Regions from separate parts of the Homo sapiens genome. Here all the other regions are linked to region 5. Evidence: fine-mapped QTL for protein levels in blood plasma. A gene starts in region 5. Each other region holds a variant in brackets. All regions are shown on one strand. Distances are between the middles of the regions.

Region 1 (5,106 bases), 940 kb before region 5:
TAAGTTATTGCATCTTCACTGACTCTAAATCAATGATTCACCTTTCAGATGTTTTAACATGGTCCCATTCTGAGCATCATCTTTAAAACAACATAGACGAACTCCAAAGGTAACGAAGACTGTGTGAGAGGCATCCCGAGAGCAGGGATAGCATGGAGGTGATAATAATGTGTGAGAAATGTTAAACATAATGATGGTGTGGATGACAGTGAGCGCAATCACACTGCTTCATGACTTACTCTTTTCTTTAATAAGTGAGATTTTTTTTTTTTTTTGAGATGGAGTTTTGCTCTTGTTGCCCAGGCTGGAGTGCAGTGGTGCGATCTCGGCTCACCGCAACCTCCGCCTCCTGGGTTCAAGTGATTCTCCTGTCTCAGCCTCCTGAGTAGCTGGGATTACAGGGATGTGCCACTACAACTGGCTAATTTTATATTTTTAGTAGAGATGGGTTTTCTCCATATTGGTCAGGCTGGTCCCGAACTCCCAACCTCAGGTGATCCACCCGCCTTGGCCTCCCAAAAGTGTTGGGATTACAGGTGTGAGCCACAAGTACCATATGCTTTATGAAAATACAAGTGGTAAGAAAATGCAAATTATATTTTGATATTCACTTAAAGGCAAAAATAAAATTCTTTTGAAAGTAATGATAACATATAGATAGATATGAAGATCTTATATGGTATTTGCAATTCTGGTCCTTAGCAATGGAATCAATAATGGACAGCCAAGTGTTTTCATATACAGAGCAGTCGCTATCTTTTCAAGAGATTCATGGTGGACAGCGAACCAAATTGTTTACATTATCCTCTTCTCAAATCAGGTATGCCTTCAAGATACATGTACCATGCGAAATTGATTGTACGTGCTACAATCCACATTTTAGAATTGAAGAAATATTAACAGTCAATGATCTAGGCAGCATAAACGATACCTTCTTCTGCAGAATACACCACCGTGGTGGGACTGAAAGGGCCTTCTCCTTTGTTGTTGAAGACACCTACTTTAACCTCAAAGGGAGAGAAGGGGTGCACGCTCTCATTCCTGAACACGTATCTAGAGGCATCAGCTGAGGCCAGCACTGTCAGCATCCAGATCATTTTACCGTAGGGCCGGAAGGCCACCACATAACCAAAGCCTCGACCATTCTGTAATTCCTCAGGGACCGTCTGGGAAAGAAGGAAGGTGGTCTTCAGAAATCACAGTAGTTTCACTCAAATGCAAAAATCGTTTTTGTTTCCCTTGTAACATTCTTGTCTACATCCTTCTCCACCCATCTTATTTGGCGTTTTGTTAACAGTCTTTTAAATTTAGGGCTTGCAGTCAGTCTATCTTAAACAGTTATGATGTACTGGACAGGGTTGAAAACGTAATGAGGATCTGCAGTCCAGAGCTTGCTCTTTGATGGGGCAGACCCAGCTCTGAAATGGTTGGAAATGATTGTAAAAAAAAAAACACTGGACATCGGTCTCCTGAAAAACCACATTTCCAACACGTATCCTCTAATACTAATCTTCTTCCATTGCCAAATAGACAAAAGATCTCACTGAAGGAAGAAAAACCATCTTGGCTGAAGATCCTCCCTCTCAGAGGGAAGAGTTCAGCTGGAGGGATGAGTGATTTCTTTCACTGCTGTGCTTTGGGTAAATGAGAGATTTTAATTTCTGGGGCTGTTTAGAATCTTTCAAAAACATGAAGAACCCTTTCTAAAGCTCCCACCTCTTCTCTCAAAGCCAATTTTTAATAAATTGGTGACTAACTTTCCTCCAGGTTGTTTTAAAAAATACCTCCTAAAAGAGGGCCCCTTCTAGAAGCAAAGCCAATTGCCAGGAAATTGTGCTGGTGCACTGAATCTATTGCTGGCAGACGTTTTAAATCAATTGGCCATGCAGCAATTCAGGAAGAAAAGAAAAACTAGTTTTCTCTGAAACAGCCTTCTTTATTTTTTTTTGTAACGTGTGTTGTCTTCCCTTCATAATTGTTTTTACTGTGATGGATTGAATTAAAACTTGCCTCAACAATGGATGGGCAAGTGCCGTCCTTCCTGCTAGCCATTAGCTACGTGAGAGGGAGTGTCTGAACCCAAATGAATTTTCACTGTTAAAAACAGAGGAGGAAACTTCCCAGCTATGTCTAACATGGAGGAAAATAATAAAATAGCTTCGATGCGTGTACGTTCCTTTTATTCTGTGATTCATTTACCTCCCAGGTTATAACCAGTTCAGATTTGCTGCCTCCGCCACCACTGACATTCGCTGGTGTGACTTCGGGGACTGCA[C/G]AAGGAGACAAAAAACAAGTTATGTCAGGCGGCAAAGGCGAATGAGGGCCAGGAAGGTTGCCTGGCAGAGGTGACTCACTTTCAGTGAGTACTCTGAGGCACGCCCCTTTGTCTCTGGAGATCAGCAACAGCATTGTCAAGGGGCCCACGGCGACCGCTCGAGGAAGTGAAATGTACCAAGGAGACTGCTATTAATTACCTGTTTCCCATTCAACAAGGCACACGTGTTATCTGACACGTCTGACCAATTGTTCAGCTCCATCCCTAGAGGCCGAGGGGTTCCCGAAGGGAGGAAAGGACTGAAGTCTGGTCCTAATGTTTGGTTATGCGTTTATGAGCCACGTGGAGATACACAAAGGGAAGAGTACAAGCTCTGCCCAGGCAGAGCTTACAAGCTGGTTGGAGTGGAGGAGCGCCTGCACCAGTTAGAGCAAGGTCGACAACCAGGGTAAGGAACAGTCAGCATGGAGAAGCGGGGGGCGTTCCGGAGTAGCGCCCTGCTCAGAGCTGGGGTGGGCGAATGGCTTCTGGGAGGAAGAGTTTTGATCTGAGTGTTGAAGGAAGTGGCAGACAGAAGTTGACCCCCGGCTCACTGAGCTTAACCTCTTTGATCACCAGTTTTCTCTATAAAAGAGAGGAAATTATGCGAGCTTCCACCTCAGGATTGCTGAGGGGAATTAATTCAATTATGGTTTTGGAAGGGGAAAAGAAAGCAGGGGACTAGCTATATTGTCATCACGTAACTGAAAGGCTCCGGGCCACATTTAAAAAGGTCTCACTGGGGTATGTGGCTGGTGACTGGGTATGTCTCCTTGGTTAAAGCCAATCAAATAGATCTAGATGAGTTTTTGCTTTTCTGAGAGTAGGGTCAGAACTCCTATTTGTGTAGGGACCTTATTATTCCTTCAACACACTGGCCTCTCTACAGGCGGGAACTCTATAAAAGACGGCACATGTAGGCCTCTTGCTTTACACCAGCTAAGTAAAAGTACGGCTGACCCTGATGAACTTGTTCTTCTCTCCCCGTGCTCATTCAAGCTGCATATGCAGAGGGCCATACTGAATTGCTGACTGGTCTTGTTCGAATGAGCACGATGTTCTGAATCTTCGTTTCTGGGAATGGTTTATACCCTAAGAAAGATAATCTAAGTGAACATTTCTGAAGAAATTATTTTTTATTTCTATTCTAAACAGGATTACCCCATGGTGGCTGTGTCCAGAGCAGTCACAAATTATTCTTTGCCATTAGTTACTTATGTGAGATAATTTTATTTGAAATGTGGGATTTTTTTTTGAAATTCTGTTAGAATCTTGGTGACAAATGAACCAATGAAGAAAGGGCTGGCTTTTGAGAGGACTAAGCACCGTGTGTCTCTTGCTGTACAAGTGGACCTAATGAAGAAAACAACTCTTGATTGAAACCCGTTGCGTGTTCAGCTGGGCTTCTCCTGGCCTGATTTCTATCATTATAAACATTTAAAGGGAAGGGTGAGCTAACACAGAGCCGCATGAGCGCTGAAGAGCAGCAAGAATTCAAACGCTTTTCCTAAGGAACAGCAGCTGGCAGAACAGATGATCTGAATCTCGGGTGCTACTCACGAGCTTCTTCTGTTCTCCGTTTCTCTGAGGGGCGGCTGGGCTCCCCAATCCCAATCACGTTGGCTGCAACTGTGCGGAATTCATATTCAACCCAAGGGTTCAAACCCACCACGGTCGCTGTGAATGTCTTCCCATCAATGAGTTCTGGGACTGAAAGACAACAAAAGGTGGGGGCTGTTTCATAGGTTCTCAGAAAACAAATGCAGAGATTACGTTAGGAAGATAGGAACATCCATCCATCCTCATCATTATTGTATTCAGGGCAGTGTAGGTGTTCTGATATTAGCTGCATCAACAGTTGTTTCAGTGAGGTAATCTCAGAACTATCTCTGTATGTTAAACTAACACACTCTAATCAGATACCAGCAGATGACATCATAAAAGACACACAGTCCACAAGACCCCAAACTACCTGACTCAATCATTACTATCACCCCTTCACATGTGTTTCCGCATTTATTGTATAGTGCCAGACACACTATTTCAACTATCCTCTGAGAAAGGTAAAAGTATTATATTCTTTTTTTCTTTTCTTTTTTTTTTTCTTTTTTTGAGACAGGGTCTCTCTCTCTCTCTCTCTGATGCCCAGGGTAGAGTGCAGTGGCACAATCTCGGCTCACTGCAACCTCCACCTCCCAGACTCATGCAATTCTTGTGCCTCAGCCTCCTGAGTAGCAGGGACTACAGGTGCATGCCACTATGCCTGTCTATTTTTTTTTTGTATTTTTAGTAGAGACGGGATTTCGCCTCATTTCCCAGACTGCTCTCAAACTCCTGGGCTCAAGCGATCCACCCGCCTTGGCCTATCAAAGTGCTGGGATGACAGTTGTGAGCCACTGCGCCTGGCCTATATTCATTCTTAAACAATTCTTATTGTGCCCATTTAACAGAAGAGGAAAATGAAGATGTATAGAGATCAGCTGATTAGCAGTCAGGTCTAGAATTCATCTCCTAACTTCTATATTTTTCTCATATTTCCTTCTTAAAGCACACCTGTGACTCAGTGATTACAGAAGGAAACACAGAAACCCATTTCTAAGGATTAGTAAACTAAAGTGAAAAAAACAAATGGGTTAAAATCAACAAGATTTATATGAATTGCTCAACACTGGGCATATTCTCCTTCAAAACATCAAGGCCATATAGCCTACTTTTGCTGTCTAGAGGAGTGTGTATCTTTGTTTGTAATAACTACTTGTTCATCCAATTTATCCTTAAATGAAATCTAAATA
Region 2 (5,106 bases), 19 kb after region 5:
CTGTTAGAACTTCTTAATTTATTTCCTAGGTTTATGGCTATCTCCTTCATATTTTTCTCTTTCCTTTTTCTTTTGCTCCTTAATATTCAATCTGGATAATTTCTTCTGATTCACATATTAGTTTACTATTTTTCTCTCCAGCTATGCCTAATTCTGCTTTCTTAATATACAAAGAGTGTGTAACTCCAATTTTTGTGCTTTCAATTCTATTTGATACTAAAACAAAGATCCTAATCTTTTTTGAGTGTAATAATCTTAATTATTTTAAAGTCTGGTTTTAATAGCTCCTTTATTCAGAACCCTTATGAATCAGTTCTTATTTCTATTGTCTGTTCTCTAACGCTCCATGTGGTCTTTCTTCCTCATGTGACTGGTTATTTTTGATTCAGTGTGAGACATTTTGTCTGAAAAGTTGTAGAAATGATTTGAGACCTAGGATGATATGGCATTTTTCCAGACAGCATTTATAGTTGATTCTGACAGGTGGCCAGGTGAAATAGCAATCTCAGTTTACCTTAATCCTGTTGTAAGGATTACAGGTCATACTCTTCCTAAAGAGTAGCCTGACATGATCCTAACCTACAGAATGGTGGGTTTACCAACCTACTCTTTTTAGAAGTCCTAGACTCCCCTTACTCCATGAAACTGTTAAAAGCACTGATAATTTTCCCTGTCTTTCAGCACCTCTACCAGAATCAGAAATGGCCTTGAGAAACAACAGCCTCCAAGTCCATTCTAACCTTCCTGACTTTCCTACTTAAAGCTGTTCATTGTCTTGTTAGCTCTCCAATGCCTGCAAATGATGTAGGGTTTTTCTTTTCGGTCACTTTGCAAGCCAAGAATCCCCAGCTGGCAGTGATACCCTGCCCGGACCTCACTCGGCCACACTGATGTGTCTCAGCTCACCTGTGTTATAGTTTATAACTGTGTTTAGTGGTTCCCGAGTTCTTGTACCATCCCCCAAAAGAATGAGAATATGCGGGACATTGAAGAGTGAGGAGGGCAGAGAAGCATTTACTTGAGCAATGAAAATGGCTTTCAGTGGAGAGGAGACACAAGGAGATTGATCCCCTACCAGAAGGTGAGAGAGTTCCCCATGTGACTAGTTCTGGGGCCTTTTATGGACTCAGAATGGGGAGTGTGTGCTGATTGGTTTGTGAGTATGCAAAAAAGGTTAAAGGGAAGACACCATTCAAAGCTGGGCAAGACAGTGTAGAAAAACCAATTAGCAAAGGGTAGGTATATGTAAAATAGGTGAAGGGTGGAGACCAGTCAGGGGAAAGCATGCCAAACAGAAAGACAAGTTCTCAGTCGGGTCCAAGGATGTAACTTGTAGCTTGGCTTTCAGGCTTTAAACTGTCTTCGTCTTGCAGGTGGGGTTTCACCAAGGACCCACCCCTGTCTGCCTAGAATTTCTCTGCCTCCTGCCTCTATCACAAGCATATTTTTAAAAAGATTTTATTCAGTTTGTCGTCAAGGAGATGGGTGGTGTTAATTACCTACTCTGCCCTTAACTGCATGGATGTCTCAGCAGTTTCTGTTATTATCCTGTTTTACTGATTAGGAAACTTAACCGTGTTCACACATGTAATGAATGAGAGACTGAGGGAAATTGATATGTTTACAGTATTAGGCTTTCTAATTCGATAATGCTCTTTTTTTTTGCTATTATAGGTATTTATTTTAAAAGAAAAGAAAAGCAAAATCTACCAATAATTTTATTCATACAATTCAGCTCAATTAATATATATTAAGCATTTATGTACCAAGCACTCAGTAAAGTACTAGGGAGCAATAATGTAGAGACAAAGCATGTAAGATGCTTTCTCTTTCTCAATTCTCAATCTAGTGCTTAGGATAAAGCTACTATAGTTCATAAATATAGATGGTTATTATTTTTATTTAGCCTGTGACATGCAAGAGTAATTATTTTGGATCAAATGCAAATTCTATTCAACAAACATATATTTATGTCCAAACATATCTATTTATTCATCTATCTTTGTAACGAGAAATGTCTGCTATTAAGCCTATACTTCAGTGTCCCTCCGATTGTGGTTAAGGATCCCTTATATCAGAATCACATGCAGTGCTTGTTAAAAATTAGACTCCGGGATCCAGCCCAATTTAAGAAACTATGAATTTCTTTTGATAAGGCCCTTGGAAACTGCAGAAACACCCAGATGATTTTCATGCACATTAAATATGGATATCGACTACCTTAAATATATTTGGGTTATTTATATCCCCTAAAATAACTTCTCTCACAGCTTATTTTTTCTTGGACATTTTATCCTTTTTGGGGACCTTAATTACCATCTGGATGTGGATAAATGTTAAATTTCTATCCTCATTCTAAACCTTTTTCCTGAGAACTGGACTTATATGTCCATTTGCCTTCAGAACAAATCTGTGTGAATGTGTCATAGGCAAGAATGTCTAAAATGTGCCAATTTTCTGGACT[A/G]TTCTCTTAACTCATTCCCCTTTTGGTCATACTCCTTAGTTGCTGTCAGAGTAAAAGGCTTTACTGTCCATCCATCTTCCCAAGCAAAGAACATGATCTTCACCCTAAATTCCTCTATCCTTGTTCAACATATTGATGAAATTGAAAGTCTGGTTTAGTAGATTTCATAGATATATCCCAAGTCAATCAAATTCTCTCCATGTCTATTGATATAATATAGGCTTTAGATTTCTCTAGGCTGGATAATAGAACTTACTTTAAAATATAAAGCATTTTATATTTTAAAAGTCCTAGACTCCCCTTACTCCATGAAGCTGTTAAAAATACTGATAATTTTCCCTGTCTTTCAGCACCTCTTCCAGAATCAGAAATGGCCTTAGAGAAATAGAGCTCTTTATTGCCTTGTTACTCTCTGATGCTTGTAAATGATGTAGGATATTTCTTCTCAGTCACTTTGCAAGCTGGGGACCCTTGGCCAGCAGCGACACCCCACCTGGGCCTCGGCCACCATAGCATTCCCCAGCTTGCCTGTGTTATAGCTTGTACCTGTGTTCAGCGGTTCTCAAGCTGTTGTACCACGTCCCAAAAGAATGAGGATATGCGGGACATTGAAGGGTGAGGAGGGCAGAGAAGGATTGTATTGAGCTATGAAAATGGCTTTCAGTGGAAAGGGGACGGGGTGGGATGGATACCCTACCTGTCCTACCCTACTCATCCTACCCTTACCCTTAAAATACAAAGCATTTTATATTGTAGGCTCTTGTACCTGTAAGCACCAAATCAGAATCACCTGCCATGATGGTTAAAAATTCATGTAACTGGGCCCTACTTCATACTTACTAAATTGTAGCTATAGGACTGCGGCCCAGGAATCTGTTGTTTAATAAATATCTCTGGGTAATTCTAATGCAAATTTAATCTTCTTCTTATAAAACTGGATGCTTTCACTAGAGACAGCAAAAAGGGGTTAAATATAGAATAAGGCAATTGAATAGCGTGCATAAAGAATGTCGGATATGAAAGAAACCAGAGAGATAACATAATCCAAACTCTTAACTGCACAGAGGAAAAGCTGAGACATAGAGGGTCACCCAGCTAGTTAGTGATAGACTCAGAAAAAGAAGCCAGATCAGGTGACTTTCAGTCAAGCACTTTATTATACTGTGCTGCTTCCCTCTTTTCAGTATGTTCCAAACTAGAGATTATTTTAGGAAACTTATTTAGACCAACTAGAATTTGGTAATGATGTTATAAATACCCCAATGTTACCTCGCATGTAAAATATGTAACTTGTTCATGTTTTTGTTAAAAAGAAATCAGCTATTTGCTTTTATGGTCAAGATTTTGAAATGCTTTTAAAGAAAACCAGTGCATACTTTTTATAAAGGAAAAAAATGTACTTCATAGGTTTTTAAATGTAAACCACAAATGTAATTGAAATCATTTTAATTGTAAGGCAAGACTGAATTTACAGCCTAGGAAAAGTCAATGTAAGCAATTATAAGAAACTCCTAAAGCTTATGCCCTCAAAGTATGCGAAGATATTTTAATTTAGATTTAAAGACACCATCTACCTAGAAAACTTAAAGGAAGAATATACTTGTTTAACTTCATTATCTAGCTCTGAACTCGACATTGTGTTAAAAAAGTAATGGTTTCCTTCCAATTATTAAAGAGGCATGTATTTTAGAAAAGGGAAGAGATGTTTAAATGCCTTATTAAAACTTGTTCAAAATGTCTTGCATAAACCAAAAAAAAGTTTCAAATTTGGGGGAAAAACTAGCAGTTTCAAGATTTGTGAAACTGAAACTATATTAGCACTCTAAATTTTCTTGAAAATATCTTACAAACCTTTGCCCATGGATGAAAGGAAATAAAATATCATTTGGCTCTGTGTCCCCACCGAAATCTCATCTCAAATTGGAATCCCACACGTGTCAAGGGCTGTAATCCCCACTTGTTGAGGGATGGAAGTGATTGGATTATGGGGCAGTTTCCCCACTGCTGTTCTCATGATAGTGAGTGAGTCTCATGAGATCTGGTGGTTCTAAAAGTGTCACTTTTTCCTGTGCCCGCTTTTATTCTCTCTCCTGCCGCCTTGTGAAGAAGGTGCTTGCTTCCCTTCACCTTCCACCATGGTTCTATCTCTCCCGAGGCCTCCCCAGCCAAGTGGAACTGTGAGTCAATTAAACCTCTTTCCTTTACAAATTACCCAGTCTATGATATTTCTTTATAGCAGTGTGAAAATGGACTAATACAATCATCATCCTCAAGTAGTCACTTATTGGGCAGATCCTGTGAGCCCAGGGCTCAGATTAGGGCTTTCTCAGTGTTCCTGCTTAGTAGCCCTGTTGTAGTCAGACAAGATTCTCTGTGTGAGAAGGTTTCTTGCCCCTTTCCCTGGGGAGGTGGATTTTGCTACTATCACTTTCCCCTGAAGTAGTGAATCTTTGCTTGGGTCTTGGGAACTGGAGGATTTCATACTCTTCCTCCAGTAGATTAAGCGTCTAAAACATTCTCTGTTTTTCTTTCTTTCATTTGTTTTTTCCGTTTTGAGACAAATTCTCACTGTCACCCAGGCTGGAGTGCAGTGGTGTAATCATGGCTGTAGCCTTGACCTCCCAGTTCAACTTATCCTCCCA
Region 3 (5,106 bases), 210 kb before region 5:
ATTTCAGGGGGAAAGGTAGGTGTGTTTTTATTCTGTTTGCTTCTGATTCGGATATTTTCATTCCAGGCCACATTCCTTAGCTGTTATTTTTCATTCTTAAAAAATAAAAAAGTCTGGAAAACAGGAGGATAAAGTCAAGGGAGTCTTTTTGTTTATAAATCAAATGTGAAATTTTCAAAACACATCTACTGCTTTGAAAGACAGGTTGAATAGCTATCATTTGAGAGTTAACCGGATTTGTGCACTCAAGCACTGGCAGTAAGACAATTTTTCAGTATTCAAATGCAATCCTTTTATTTCTGTATTATAATAGAAAACAAGTGAGAGCACAGAACGAGTGAGTTTTAGGTAGTGGAGGGTTAAAAGCCTTTCATATACACAGATAATCATGGTAATTTTAGTTAAACTATCAAACAACACCTGAAGTCTCACAGGTGCTCGATATGCCATTGGGGTACAAGTGAAGCCATTTTTAAAAGGGAACAAGTAATGGTGTAGGTTTTAGGTCAAACATTACCTGCAGATGATGGCATAAAACTAAAAATAAGGAGAAAGTGTGATGAGGTAGCATGTGCTGAGGTGAAAAAGTGGGAAGGCGGTCCCTTATGCTGCAAATGTCTCCATAGGCTTTGTAAATCATAGAGGACATCACTTTTAGGGATAGCAAACAACAGACATTCTGCATTGTGACATAAAATAAAGCCATTCTCCCTTGTGCATGCTGTACTGACTGAGAAAAATTTCTCATGCAGATCCCATAGCTCCACAGTGTCAGTCATAGCCAATGTTAGCCTGGGGGACTTTAAAAATGATCAAGGCTAATCTTTTCATTTTATAGAAGAGAAAACTGAAGTTTATAAGAGTAGGAAACTTGAAAAGCACCCAATAAATTAGTTGAGGGCTAAAGCCAAGTCATTTGTCTGTTGCTGTAATACTCTTTCCCCTTATCGTAATGTCTCAATCATGAGAACACAAATTCATCCATCCATCCATCTGGTACCAACAGCTCTAAGACTTAGAAACTACTGCAGTATTTGATTGGAGTCTGATAAAATTTGAACATATTCCACCTGAAAACTAAAATAAGTTGATATAAAAAGAGGTAGGGACATAAACATCACCAGCATACCATAAAGTATTTAATACAAGTAAGCTTTTACTATTTCTATTTCCCACTATTTTACAGATAGGAAATATTTATGTAAGTATCAGTAAACAACATATATGAAAGCAAGCATGCCAGAATTGAGCTGGTCCTGAGACTTTCCACATGTGGAAAACAGAGGTGGCAAATGGTTTCTCTTTGATTCCATGTGCTCATTAGACATAACTTGCTTGTTCCACAAACTATGTCTAATGTATTTTTTAAAAACTCTATTAGTTGTCAACATTAAAATATTGAAGTGTTCCAAAAACTTAAAAATTCTGATTTCCACTCATATATTAAAAGACCAAGCATCACTGGGACTCCATTCTGAAATGGCAACAATTACCTAAACAGGGTATAATACATCTGTCATTTCCCTGCCATGTGAAGGCCTGGACTGCAGGGATGTTGATGGAAATGGGGAAGAAACAAGAGTCGCAAACAAAAAGAAATAAGTCATATAAAAAACAAGTAGGAAACACAGGCATCAATATTACTTTGTAATTATAGCAAATATAAATATATTAAGCGCTGTAATTAAAAGGTAGATATTTATACACTGGCTTTTAAAAAACACATGATCTAACTATATATTGTCTACAACTGAAATATTTTAGGTTCAAAGACAAAAACAGGCTGAAAGTTAAAAGACAGAAAAGGACATATGCAAACAGTAACCAAAAAAAGAGCTGGAACAGCATTACTAATATCACACTTCAATACTTTAAGCCAAAAATTTTAGTACAGATGAACAGATTTTATAATGAGAAAAGGGTCAATCTGCCAGTAAAAAATAATACCTATAAACTTACACGCACCTAAAAAACAAAGACTCAAAATAGAGGAAGGGAAACTGATAGAAATGAAAGAAGAAATAGAAAATTCAACAATAATAGTTGAAAAGCTTCAAAATCCTTCTTTAAATAGTGGAAAGAAAATCAGACAGAAGATCAAAAAGGATCCAGAAGATTTAACACCATAAACAAACTAGACCAGCAAACAGGTATAGAACACTCCACTCCAAACAGTAGAATACACATTCTTCTTAAGTGCATTGAAAACATTTTTCAACTTAGACTGTAAAAGATCTACAGACTATATTTTATATACATTTTTCCTACATTTTAGAGATATTGAAATATTAACGGTTTTATAAATAATATAAAAAATGATACAACAAACTTCAATGAGTTTAAAAGGAATAAAATCATAAAACGTTCTCTGACCACAATAAAATTAAATTAGCAATCAAAACTAAAAGCAAATTTGGGAAATTTGTAAATATGTGGAAAATAAATAACTTATCCATAAATAACCAAGGGGTCAAGAAAAAAATCAAAAGGGAAATTACTTTCAGACTTTGAGATGCATGAAAATGATAACAGAATATGCCAAAACTTAAAAGATGAAGCTAAAGCTGTGCTTCAAAGAAAATGTAAAGCTTTGAATGCGTATATTTAAAAAGAATAAAAATTTAAAATCAATAACTTAACTTTCCACCTTGAAACCCTGGAAAAGAAGAGCAACAGAAGGGAGAAAATAATAAAGACTGGAGTAAAATATAAAGGGAATTGCAAACAAAAAACAACAGAAAAAAATCAATGGAACAAAAATTGGGTCTTAGAAAATGTAAATAAAATTGACACAACTTTAGCTAGACTGACAAAACAATTGAGAAAATTCAAAATCCTAAAATTGAGAATAAAAGGGGGGATAACAACAGAATTTACAGATATTTTAATAAAAAGGATTATAAGGCAATTACTATAAACCACTACGTTATCAACAAATTAGATAATTTAGACAAAAATAGAAAAATTCCTAGAAAGACAAAAACTACTGAAATTTATTCAAGA[A/G]GAAACAGAAAATCTGAATAACCCTGTGTCAAGGAAAGTAAATAAATTAGTAATCAAGAAACTTCTCATAAAAAAGTCCATGAGCAGAAGGCTTCACCGGTACATTCCACAAAATGTTTATTGAAATTCTTCAAAAACTAGAAGACAAAGAAACACTTCCAGGCTCATTACATAAGCCCATTATTACCATGATACCCAAACCAGACAAGAACATCATAAGAAAGCTACAAATTAATACTCCTTATGAAGATAGACACAAAAATTTTCAAGAAACCAAATCTAGCAACAGATAAAAAGAATTATGACCACAACAGATTATTCAAGTAAAGCAATGATATAGACCAGATTATTCAAGTAAAGCAAGATTAATTCAACATATAAAAATCAATCAATGTAGCACACCATATTAATACAATAAAGAACAAAAGCCACATGATCATTTGATACATGCATAAAAAGTATTTAAAAAATGCAACACTCTTCCATGATAAAAAAACACTCAAGGAACTAGAAAGGAAAATCCTTGGAAGGAAGATCCTAAACCTAAAAAAGGGCACCTGCAGAAATGGGCATCTCACAGCTAACATCATACTTATCAGTAAAAGATGAAAGCTTTTCCCGTGAGATCAAAAAGAAGACAAGAATGGTTGTCTTGCTATTTTTTTTTTTTTTTTTGAGATGGAGTCTTGCTCTGTCGCCCAGGCTAGAGTGCAGTGGCACAATCTCGGCCCACTGCAAGCTCCGCCTCCCGGGTTCACGCCATTCTCCTGCCCCAGCCTCCCCAGTAGCTGGGACTACAGGCGCCCGCCACCACGCCCGGCTACATTTTTGTATTTTTAGTAGAGACGGGGTTTCACCGTGTTAGCCAGGATGGTCTTCATCTCCTGACCTTGTGGTCTGCCCGCCTCAGCCTCCCAAAGTGCTGGGATTACAGGCGTGAGCCACTGCGCCCGGCCTTGCTATTTCAATTCAATTGTAGTGGAGGTCCTAACTAGGACAATTAGGAAAAATAAAATAAAATAAAATGTGCCTAGATTGGAAGGAATGAACAAAACTATCTCAATTTCTTCTACATAGAAAATCCTATGGAATCCACAGAAAATTTTAGATTTAATAAACAAGTTCAAGCAAAATTCTAGGATACAAGTTCAATATATAAATATAAGTTTTATTTCTATACACTAGCAATGAGCAATTCAAACATGAAATAAAAAAATTTCATTTAAAATATCAAAAATAATAAAATACTTAGGAACAAATTTAATAAAATCAGTATATTAAAGATGTGTACACTGAAAACTAGACAACATCATTGAAAGAAATTTTAAAAAGACCTAAATAAATGGGAAGACATCCCGTGTTCATGGAATGGAATATTTACTAGTGTTAAGATTGCAATACCTCCAAATTGATTTACAGATTCTATGTAATCCTTGTAAAAGTTTAAGGTTGTTGTATTGCAGAAATTATAAAGATGGTCCTTATATTCATATGGAAATTCAAGACGCTCCAAGTAACTGAAACATCCTGAAAAAAAACAATGTCTGACGACTTAGACTACATAGCCAAAATATATCCAGAATATATCAAGAACTCTTATAATTAAATATTGAAAAAAGACCCAGTTAAAAAATAGACAAAAATTTGAACAGACATTTATCCAAAGATGATACACAACTGTCCAACAAGTACATGAAAGATGCTCAAATCATTAGCAATTAGAGACATGCAAATCAAATCCACAATGAGAAACACTTTCCATTCACTTAGATGACTATAGTTAAAAAACAAGCAACCACAAATCTAGCAACATATAGAGCTGACAAGAATGGGAAGAAATAAAAACCCTCATGCATTGTTGCTGAGAATGTAAAATGATGCAAACACTTTGGTAAACAGTTTCATTTATCACTCTTCAAAAAGTTCATCATAGCTTTACCATATGACCCAGCAATTCCACTCCTAGGACATCTAAGCAAAATAAAAGCATATTCCACACAAAACCTTGTACACAATATTCAAAGCAACATTATTTATAATTACAAAAAATAAAAACAACCCCAAAGTCCATCAAATGATGAATGAATAAACAAAATGTTGTAT
Region 4 (5,106 bases), 710 kb before region 5:
CTGGGACTACAGGCGCCCGCCACCACGCCCGGCTAATTTTTTGTATTTTTAGTAGAGACGGGGTTTCACCGTGTTAGCCAGGATGGTCTCGATCTCCTGACCTCATGATCTGCCTGCCTTGGCCTCCCAAAGTGCCGGGATTACAGGTGTGAGCCACTGTATCCGGCCTCATTGTATCATTTTTATGCCTTTGCGTCCTCATAGCTTAGCTCCCACATATCAGTGAGAACATACGATATTTGGTTTTCCATTCCTGAGTTACTTCACTTAGAATAATAGTCTCCAATCTCATCCACGTCACTGCAAATGCTGTTTATTCATCCTTTTTATGGCTACATAGTATTCCATCATATATATATATATATATGCCATAGTTTCTTTAGCCACTTATTGATTGATGGGCACTTGTGTTGGTTCCACGATTTTGCTATTGTGAATTGTGCCACTATAAACATGCATGTGCAAGTATCTTTTTTAAACAATGACTTCTTTTCCTCTGGGTAGATACTCAGTAGTGAGATTGCTGGATCAAATGGTAGTTCTACTTTTAGTTCTTTAAGGAATATCCACACTGTTTTCCATAGTGGCTGTACTAGTTTGCATTCCCACCAGTGGTGTAGAAGTGTTCCCTGTTTACTGCATCTACACCAACATCTACTGTTTTTTGATTATGGCCATTCTTGCAGGTGTAAGGCGGTATCACATTGTGGTTTTGATATGCATTTCCCTGATCATTAGTGATGTTGAGCATTTTTCCTATGTTTTTTGGCTATTTGCATATCCTCTTTTGAGAACTGTCTATTCATGTCCTTAGTCCACTTTTTTGATGGGACTGTTTGATTTTTTTCTTATTGATTTGTTTGAGTTCGTTGTAGAGTCTGGATATTAGTCCTTTGTCAGATGTATAGATGACGAAGAGTTTCTTCCACTCTGTGGGTTGTCCGTTCACTCTGCTGACTGTTCCTTTTGCCATGCAAAAGCTCTTTAGTTTAATTAGGTCCCAGCTATTTATCTTTGCTTTTATTGCATTTGCTTTTGGGTTCTCTTGGTCATGAAATCCTTGCCTAAGCCAATGTCCAGAAGGGTTTTCCAATGTCATCTACTAGAATGTTTATAGTTTCAGGTCTTAGGTTTAAGTCCTTAATCCATTTTCAGTTGCTTTTTGTATAAGGTGAGAGATGAGGATCCAGAGTCATTTTATCTCCAAAGCCTTGGTACTTGGGTAATGATCAGTAGCAGCAGGCATTATGAGACGGAATATACATTATGGATAATGCTCTGTCACTGTGGCCATCACACTAATAGCAACAATAGAATTGACTTGCAGACTATATTGCAGTCATACCATGTGGCCAAGTACTTTTCTTATTTGATCTCATTGAATTCCATTACACTTTAAACTCCCAATTTATAGGTGACACAGCTGAAGCTCACGGAGGTGCAGCACCTTCTTCACGTGCCTAGGAAGTGGCCAGAAGATACAAACTCATGTTTTGTCTCTCTCCAAAGTTACTGCTCTGAAGCACCATAATCTGTGGCATCTTCACTGATTTCGTAAAGTCAGTGAAAAAGAGCTTTCAAATCAGTTACTTGCCATGCCAGGACACAAAAACGTTCATTTAAATAACATTTACACTCAGTGAATATGGAAAGAAATCCACATTTCAACACATAGTGTGATGGGTTGGTATAAGTACTTTGGTTTCAAATCTTCTATTCCTCTGCTTTTCTTTGTGGTTGGGCACTCAACATGGAGATTGTAAATGTTAGGTGCAAAGTGTGAAGTTGAACAAGGAGAAAATAAACAGAAACAACTCTATTAAGAAGCAGGATTGCTGCCTTGTTAGGAAGGTAGCTAAACAATTACACTTGGCTTGTATTCCGTTTAGCAATTGGTCACCAAAGATAGTATTGAATAAATAATGTGTATGTAAAACAAGGAATTAACATCCGTGCACCATTGTTTCTCAAAATAGCCTGTCTTTCAAGCTTTATATGTGGTTCATTGACATGTGATGTGTAGATTTTTAAAAAATAAATACCTCTACTTTTTGGTGTTGATTTCATTTGTCAGCATTTTACATAACTTTTTCCAACAGCCATGTGCTAAGGATTGTACAATTGTGTGGCAGATGTGTTTTCATATCATATTTGTGAAAACAGCTGTCCTTTATTCTCCTATGGAATGTAATACCTGAATTTCATTTTAAAATGAGATTAGAAAACATGCTATAGTATTTGGAATGTGTTACCTCATTGAGACCAGAGAGGAAGTGATTTAGCAGTTACATTCCTGGAGGAGTGGACGTGTACAAAAGCCTTAAAGCTGCAATATGCTATCAATAATAAAAAGTCTTAATATAGGAAAACATTTGGAATTCAGGCCATGGAGTAAATTAGAGAGCAAGGGGAAAATGTCCACGTATTTTTTGTCTGGGAAATTTTTAAATATTTAGAGCTGGGGAAGAAGTATCTTACCATAAATACCTGATTATAGTCTAGAGGATATAAAATCAAGAGGGTCCAAGATCTCTTTTGAGAAGTAATAACAGTAAATAAGAAAGAGTAATTTATTTAGGTCATAATTAATGGACTAGCCATTACACATATGGACAGGAAGAGCTGAAGCTATTCACAGGGTGGGATGACTCAGAGGAAGGTATAAAAAGTTTAGTTTTAAAATGGCCAGGAAAGGTTAATGAGATAATATCACACATCATAGTTTGTTAAGAATCCACAGAGAGAAGGGAGAAAAGAAAAAAAGGAAAAATGATACAGTAACCATGCATGTAATACATGTATTATTTAATGCAAGTAAAAAAATACCAATTCACTTTTTTCCTGACTTGGGTAGACCTGGATTCTATTAATTCTCCCAGGTTGGCCTTAGAACAAGAAATTGTCAGCACCAGTTCCCTTTGTTATTGCTTCCTTTT[A/G]AAAGACGCAATCAGTAAGGAGATGAACATCAACTTGGAAAAATGGTCAAGTGATACATTTGTTATGAATATGATCTCCATAATGATGACTGCACCATTTATAAAAAGAAGTATTTTTGGAGAGTAACTTTAAAAACTCACTATCATGCAGCAAATTTAAAGTTATGTCTTGACTCTCTGCCATTTGCTCCCTGTGTGTGTGTGTGGATGCACACTTTATGGTTTCCTGGATTGAAGAGACTTGTAGTGAAAATAAATCGAAATTTACAAAACCTGAGTTTCAAAGTCGTATTTTTGACATTCTTTCCATTTAGGAAGAAGGAAGACTGGACTTCCCTGTAAGAGAGTATATAGCAAGAGGAAGAACTGCCTGATGGTTTAACACCCTGGTTTTGGAGTCAGAAGGACCTGAGTACAAACTTAGCACTCTTACTTTCTACCTGTATGATGTAGGTGAGTTAGTTAATCTCCTTGAACTTCAATTCTCACTTCTAATGTCAGGACAATAATTCCTGTCTCATAGGACTTTCTGAAGATTAAGATCATGCATGTAAAGCACTTAAGATGCTGCCTGGTCCAAAGTCAGTAGTCTATAAATGTTAGCACTATCAGTATGACTTTTGAGCATCCAAAGGAAAGTTTACAGAAAGTGACTCACTGGGAGAACTTCCACCGGATAAAGTAACATTAGAGTGGCCAAGTCAACACTACTGTGGCAAAAAAACAAAAAAACAAAACAAAACAAAAAAAACAAACCTGATAAGACTTAAAATATATCCTCTTCTGCTAGTCCTAATTATGCTTTCAAGTCAAGATTGATGCTGAAGTGAATCAGATATCTTATCCTTTATATTGCATGAACTGTATTCTTTATAACACTTATATTTAAGATATACGCACTATACCCTGGATTCAGATAATTCTTCATGAGAAATTCTTCCTATAATCTTCTGGTCTGAGAATGCTTGTGTTACTTAAAAATATTGTTTCTATACAACAGTAAAATTGATATTTGTCTACCTTTTTAAAACTTTTAAGTTTAGGGGTACATGTGCAGGTTTGTTACAGGTAAACTTGTGTCATGGGGGTTTGTTGTACAGATTATTTCATCACCCAGGTATTAAGCCTAGTACCCATTAGCTATTTTTCCTGATCCTCTCCCTCCTCCCGCCCTCCACTCTCTAACAGGCCCCAGTGTGTGGTGTTCCCCTTTATGTGTCCACGTGTTCTCATCTTAGCTCCGACTTGTAAGTGAGGACATGTGGTATTTCGTTTTCTGTCAATTTGCTGAGGATAACGGCCTTACCTTTTTTAAAGGATGTAAATATATGTGATTTTTGGCTGGGCACAGTGGCTCATGCCTGTAATCGCCGCACTTTGGGAGGCCAAGGCAGGCAGATTGCTTGAGGTCAGGAGTTCGAGACCAGCCTGGCCAACACGGGGAAACCCTGTCTCTACTAAAAATACAAAAATTAGCTGGGTATGGTGACATGTGCTGTAGTCCCAGCTGCTCTGGAGGCTGAGAGGCAGGAGAATTGCTTGAACCTGGGAGGCGGAGGTTGCAGTGAGCCGAGATCGCGCCACTGCACTACAGCCTGGGTGACAGAGCAAGACTCCGTCTAAAAACAAAAACAAAAACCTGACATTAATTACCCCAGTTTGTTGGCAGTCGAAAGTAAGGGACTAGGAGGTCGGGCACATATGTAGTCCCAGCTACTCGGGACGCTGAGGCAGGAGAATGGCGTGAACCCAGGAGGTGGAGCTTGCAGTGAGCTGAGATCAGGCCACTGCACTCTAGCCTGGGCGACAGAGCGAGACTCTGCCTCAAATAAATAAATAAATAAATAAATAATAAAATAAAAATAAAGTAAAGGACCAAAACTTTTTTTTTTTTTTTGACACTGAGTCTTGCTCTATCGCCCAGGCTGGAGTGCAGTGGTGTGATCTCAGCTCACTGCAACCTCTGCCTCTTGGGTTTAAGTGATTCTCCTGCCTCAGCCTCCAGAGTAGCTGAGATTACAGGCACCTGCCACCATGCCCAGCTAATTTTTGTATTTTTAGTAGAGACAGGTTTCCCACATTGGCCAGGCTGGTCTCGAACTCCTGACTTCAAGTGATACGCCTGCCTCGGCCTCCCAAAGTGCTGGGATTACAGGTGTGAGCCACCGCA
Region 5 (5,106 bases):
CAAGTTTTTACAAAATATTAATTTTTAAGATAAGAGAGATTGAAGCTAATGCATATTATGTCTGTCCTCAAATATAACAAAGAAGAAACAACAAGTTAAAATCATGATCAGACAAACTTGTAGAAAAGTCAGTACCATGCATGGGAATTTTCTGCTGAGCAGCTTTATTTTTTTAAGACCTAAATTGAAGGAACGGATGCCCTGTATACATTTCAGAAGAAAAACTGCAGCCAAAAGATTTAGTGCTTAGATCGGAAAAGAAATCAGAAGACCTACTTTTGAACAAAAAGGAGAGAGAAGTAGGTAAAATAAGTGAATGATAAAAAATCCAACATCATTTGAAAGGTTTGTTCTCTAATCACTCTTAATTACCTGCCAATATGAAATGACCATGGAAAAAGGTACTGCATTGACTCCCAATTGACTTGAAAAGTTTTACAACTCAAAGAAACTGAAAAGTGTTGTTTAAAAAACTGCAAATAGGAAAATCTACCTCTGTTGAAACTTACATGTGGCTCTGACATGCACCCTTATCCAAGTCACTTCTCTTAGACTCTTAGTCTTTAATTGAAAAGGTCAGTTTTTCCATCCTTGCCAGCTACCTCCCAGGGTTCAGATGGAAAAATAATGACGTTTATCAGCATCATCTCTCCTCAACAAGACAGAGCAGTTGAAACCAGCTTCAACAAACAAATCAATAGCTATTTTATAAGGTAGCAAAAATAATATTCTCATGAAACTTGTTTTTGATCCTTAGCAATCTTACCTACTCCTGCGACCCACTGCAGATATTCCCACAAAATCTTTAAAGAAATCAAGATAAAAATAGCAAGAATAAACTTACGGGTAACGTGAATTTTCTCATGAATGCCACCCAAATCACCTCCAGGTGCCTGTCTTCATGACACACTGTTCTTTTTCACCCACTTGGGTAGAGAGAGAGAAAGAGAGAACAAACTTGCTATTAGGCAGACTTGGGAACGCTATTGTATGGACCTGCTCATAGGCAACCTATACAGTCTTTACGCTCCTACCCCACTCTCTAAAGGACATAAACCAGAAATCTCAAAAAACAAAAAAATACAAGCGCGTTCCAAATTATCTTGTGTGGGTATCCAAACGACTCAGTTATGTGGAGTTACTCCTTGAACTATCCAGCTCCCACTACAGAAAATTGAAAGAGCTTCCCATGCAGTTAAATGCCACTGTTATTCTGACAAACATGTGCCCGCCCCTATGTTGATTCCAGCAGGAAAACTAGAAAAAGTTCCACGACATTCCTTTCAGGAACTCCTCTTACAAATAAACCTCCAACACACCTCAAGATCCGGCCCACTCTCCTCCACGCAGACCACACACCCAGGGTGCTCAGTCACACTGACTCGCCCTACACAACCTCCGCCAGCTTCTTCGCACCGAATCTGCAGACCCTGGCCAGCAAGCAACCGCCTGATCTTCCCGACGCGCGAAGCCGCCTCCTCGCAGGAGCTTCGCTGCGAAATGTTTCCATGCAGCCGACTCTCTGGCTGGTTCAGAGGGATTCAGGAGCCCACGTCCTCCTACCCTCACCTCCACACCCTTCATAAATAGTAAAACATATACACGAAGCACAAGAGAGAAAATGCACGAAGATTTTGAGCCCCGCGTTCCAGAAGGAGAGTGAGTGGATTGGGGTCTGTGGGGCGCCCGGCGCACAGTTCGCCGCCGTCTGGGCCCGGGGAGGGGACGGGGCGGTTGTCTTGCCTCTCGAAAGAAACTGGAAACCCCCCAGAAGTTGCTGGAAACGAATGCCACCCAACAGGCTCCCGCGGCAGAGACTGGGGAAGCCAGGTACCTTCCCTAAGAGCAGGCACCTGGCCTGTCGCTCGCCGCCGCAGCCTCAGCGCTCAGCAGCCAGCCCGGCACCCAGCGGGCGCCACAGACATCAGCCTCCGTCTCCACGCGGCTCCTTCCACCACGGCTACGGGCTCCTGTTCCTTTAGTCCCAGGTCCCTCCACTCCCCAGGTTCGCGTCCCTCTGCTGCGGGCTGTGACTGGGCTGTCAGAAGAAAAGCCCCGCCGGGAACCCGGCGCCAGAGGCCAGGGCGCACGGAGAGGGGGCAGTAGCCCGAACCAGTCGGAGGAGCTGACTTGAAGGCTTCCCGCAGCATTCCGGGCTCTCGGTTCCTTGTTTTGTGGCTGCCTCGCAGCGCAACAAACTTATTTTCCGGCTGAGAAGGAGAAGAAGGGTCGCTGTGGGGTGACGGTGGCGTCGTCGGGGCCCTGAGTCCTCCGCGCTCAGGCGTTCAGCTCCCGCTCCCCGACCCTGCAGGGCTTCCGGGCTCTGAGCTGGACGGCCCCGCAGACGCTGCCCGGCCCCGCGGGAGTCAGAGCCCCGGGAAGCGCCCCTGTCCTTCGGGCAACCCGCGCGGACCCTGCCCTTTCCCCCCCACACCCGCGACCGCGTCCCCGGGGCATCGCGCGCCCACGCAGGAGCCGGACCCGCACAGCTGCCGCCTCACTTACCTCAGCACCGGGGCGCCGGGCTGGCGAGAGCCTCGGGTGCGGCGCCGGCACAGTCCGAGGGGCCCGGGGCGGCGGCGAAAGCTCCCTACTTGCAGCCAATCCTGGCGTCGAACCCCGGGCTCCGTCTGGCGCGGCGCTGCCCTCCCTCCCGGCGCTCGCGGCGGCTGGAAAAACCTGGCGCGCCGGAGTTCGGGCTGCCGGCTCCTTAGCCGCGGGGCGGGGGAGACGCTCGGGGAAGGGGAGAGGCGCGGGCGGGTGGGAACGGGCGGGAGACGAGCGGGGACGGGGAGACGCGCCGGAGGCCCGGAGCCCGCGCATGCTCAGTGCGCGGCCGGAGGAGGCGAGCGCTGGGGACGCAGCACCTGCCCCGCGCGGCCGAGAGGCGGCAGCCCCAGGTCCCCAGCGCGCGAAATTAGTAAAGGGCGCCTGGCCCGATTCTCAGGCAAGAGGAGATTATCAGCCGGATTCCCGTGCGGGGACGTAGGGGTTGCGTTGTTCAGCGGCCAGGGATGCGCCGAGGCGATGTCTCCTCCCTTTACAACCCGAGTATCGGGGCACGAGGAGGCGCGACCTTCCTGGGTACCCAAACCTCTGGCCTCCGGGAGACGCGGAATTCGGGGGATCGTTAAGGCGCCCTGGCCAGGGAAACAGATGCTTCTGCGTCTGGGCTGAAAATTGCTGAACCGGGGAATGTGGGTGGGCGGGTGGCATTGAACTTAGGCCAGAAGAGGGGGCTTTGGTAGGTTTTTACCTGCCTGTCCTTAGGCGGAGGACACTGGCTGGACAGGCTGCGTTACACACCTGAAGTCTCATCCACGCAAAGTGCTTTCAGGTTGGAATGTGGGGCGGGGGCGGGGGGAGGTCAGAGGGAACAGTTGCTGTAAATTAGGTACAAGGATCAATTTGTGGTGTGTTGTGCGCGGGGGTGGGGCATGTCGAAAGCCTTGTTATTCGAAAGAATGTGCTTTGAACGACGTTGCCACGGTCATTCTACATTATGAATCTACTGTTTCCTTGCAGAAGTGGCTCCCTTCGCCGCAACTCCACACCTCGGGGTAACCGTAGAGATTGGCAGCAATGCCCCAGCCCCTCACCAGCACTGTGCAAAGTGACTTTGACAGGCAGAGAAAAGCCAACCCAGTCGAATTCGTCTGGAAAGCATTCCAGCAACCCAGAGAGGAGCCTCTGTTTCTCTCTCTGGGAAAAAGCCCCAAGGGTTTTGCTGAACCCAGGTCTTCCTGCTCATCTCTCAGCAGTTCAGAGCTACATAAACAACTTCTGACCATTTACGCAATCATGTAAACCTACCCTGACATCTCCACTATGTGGAAAAGATGTTAACTGGAAAACTATTTTTAAACTACTGCAGTAAGCAAATAAACATCCAACTCCAACATATATATGCAGCAGCCTTATTAGTTCATTCAGTGTTGGTTTGGTTTGTTTGTTTTGTCTTCTGCTTTTTAGAATTAATTATTATCTTTATAATTCCTGTTCGAGAAGTGGGCAAAACCAGGCTAGTGATAGGTATTGTTGTGGTCAAATTTTTCATCACTTGAAATTCCATGACTTTCATGATTGCTGAGATTAATGCTAAATAAAGAAGTTACCCCCCCGCCCCCACCCCACCCCAACCTCCCCACCAAAGTTTCCTGATTACTTAAACTTGGAGAGAAATTTTCAGGCTTTTTCCTCCCTCCTTGCCTGGTATGTGTCTGTAATAGAGGTACTTTTGCAAAACTGGAATGTTGGTGATGCAGGTGTTTTCCATGGTAAACAGCCACTGAGGATCAATGGTTCCCAGGTTCCCACTCACTTTGAAGGCTTTTGTGCTTCTGCCGGAACTGTGACTTTTACTACCTGTACTATGTATGATTTTTTTTTACATTGATTATTTCTCTGCAACTAGTCAATTAAAAGTACATATATATAACTTTTAGTAAGACTGTTTATCAAAATATGCTTCACCAGAAGTTCTCCAGAAAATATTCCTGTGTAGTCATGCATACTCCTAACACATTAAAGGGAAATGTCGTGTTTTAGACTGGACACAGAATTTCAGAAAAGAACAAAGAATAAAATATGCTGTCACATTCTCCCACTGGGACTATACATTGAAGCAATTTTCAAAGTTTTATGACAATTTCAGGCAAAGTCCCTTAACTGTGTTTCTAAATTTCAAATGTACATATTTTGTTTCCATTCTCCCCTTTGGCCCTTATTCTGTGCCTGCTATATGCTAGGCATTGTCTTCTAGTAGATTCTGGGAAACAAACTAAACATGACCAAGACTTGCTCCACAGTTCACCATGTAGTTAGGAAAACAGACATTGTGTATCTGGAGAGACAGATTTGGGTCGTGTTGAGGGGATATCAGTTAAACGTTAAGTTAGGAGGAGGCATTTTTTCTTTTCACCAACACACCCCCACACTGATCCAGTGCTAAGCTTGTTCAGTCCCTCCCCAACATTTTCTCTAGAACAGCAGCTAGTTTAAAATGCAGCCAATAATCCAGTCCCTTTTTTCCATCCTGCAGCAAAGAAGCGATGCTCAGCTGCCACCTCTGCCAAGATAGAAAGCCTCTTGCGGAAGCTCCCAGGA

Which allele goes with the higher level. Positions count from the first base shown, and alleles are read on the strand shown. Strength reflects both the effect of a copy and how common the allele is. Not every link is listed here.
In carriers of allele G in region 1, the plasma level of the protein whose gene starts at base 2,618 in region 5 tends to be lower than with C alone (weak association).
For the plasma level of the protein whose gene starts at base 2,618 in region 5, allele G in region 3 goes with a lower level than allele A (weak association).
As copies of A replace G in region 4, the plasma level of the protein whose gene starts at base 2,618 in region 5 goes up (moderate association).

The links. PIP is the chance, under the fine-mapping model, that this variant and not a neighbour inherited with it causes the effect. Protein levels are from antibody-based Olink assays in UK Biobank. Linkage for the fine-mapping came from a reference panel and not from the study's own genotypes, which makes the PIPs less certain.
Region 1: its variant is fine-mapped to the plasma level of the CNTN4 protein (UK Biobank, PIP above 0.99).
Region 2: its variant is fine-mapped to the plasma level of the CNTN4 protein (UK Biobank, PIP above 0.99).
Region 3: its variant is fine-mapped to the plasma level of the CNTN4 protein (UK Biobank, PIP 0.99).
Region 4: its variant is fine-mapped to the plasma level of the CNTN4 protein (UK Biobank, PIP above 0.99).

The regions. Positions count from the first base shown.
Region 1 is chr3:3,036,097-3,041,202 of GRCh38, reverse strand. It overlaps CNTN4 (contactin 4), which reads right to left. Exons shown (of 25, transcript NM_175607.3): 18 at 3,875-4,024; 19 at 2,200-2,270; 20 at 932-1,166. CNTN4-AS1 (CNTN4 antisense RNA 1) reads left to right here. Exons shown (of 4, transcript NR_046554.1): 3 at 49-158; 4 at 821-1,542. Among named protein-coding and RNA genes, the nearest start is that of CNTN4-AS1, 22 kb to the left of the region's middle. RefSeq lists enhancers at 2,547-2,656, 1,891-3,090. The variant C/G (reference allele first, on the strand shown) is at 2,276.
Region 2 is chr3:2,077,530-2,082,635 of GRCh38, reverse strand. No RefSeq gene overlaps it. Among named protein-coding and RNA genes, the nearest start is that of CNTN4, 19 kb to the left of the region's middle. The variant A/G (reference allele first, on the strand shown) is at 2,465.
Region 3 is chr3:2,306,007-2,311,112 of GRCh38, reverse strand. All of the region lies in intron 2 of CNTN4 (contactin 4), which reads right to left. Among named protein-coding and RNA genes, the nearest start is that of CNTN4-AS2, 160 kb to the right of the region's middle. The variant A/G (reference allele first, on the strand shown) is at 3,004.
Region 4 is chr3:2,811,135-2,816,240 of GRCh38, reverse strand. All of the region lies in intron 6 of CNTN4 (contactin 4), which reads right to left. LOC105376926 (a long non-coding RNA gene) reads left to right here. Exons shown (of 3, transcript XR_001740398.2): 3 at 3,251-3,307. Among named protein-coding and RNA genes, the nearest start is that of CNTN4-AS1, 250 kb to the left of the region's middle. The variant A/G (reference allele first, on the strand shown) is at 2,937.
Region 5 is chr3:2,096,378-2,101,483 of GRCh38, reverse strand. It overlaps CNTN4 (contactin 4), which reads right to left and starts at 2,618. Exons shown (of 25, transcript NM_175607.3): 1 at 2,506-2,618; 2 at 845-926. LOC124909338 (a long non-coding RNA gene) reads left to right here and starts at 3,229. Exons shown (of 2, transcript XR_007095785.1): 1 at 3,229-3,337; 2 at 3,526-3,903.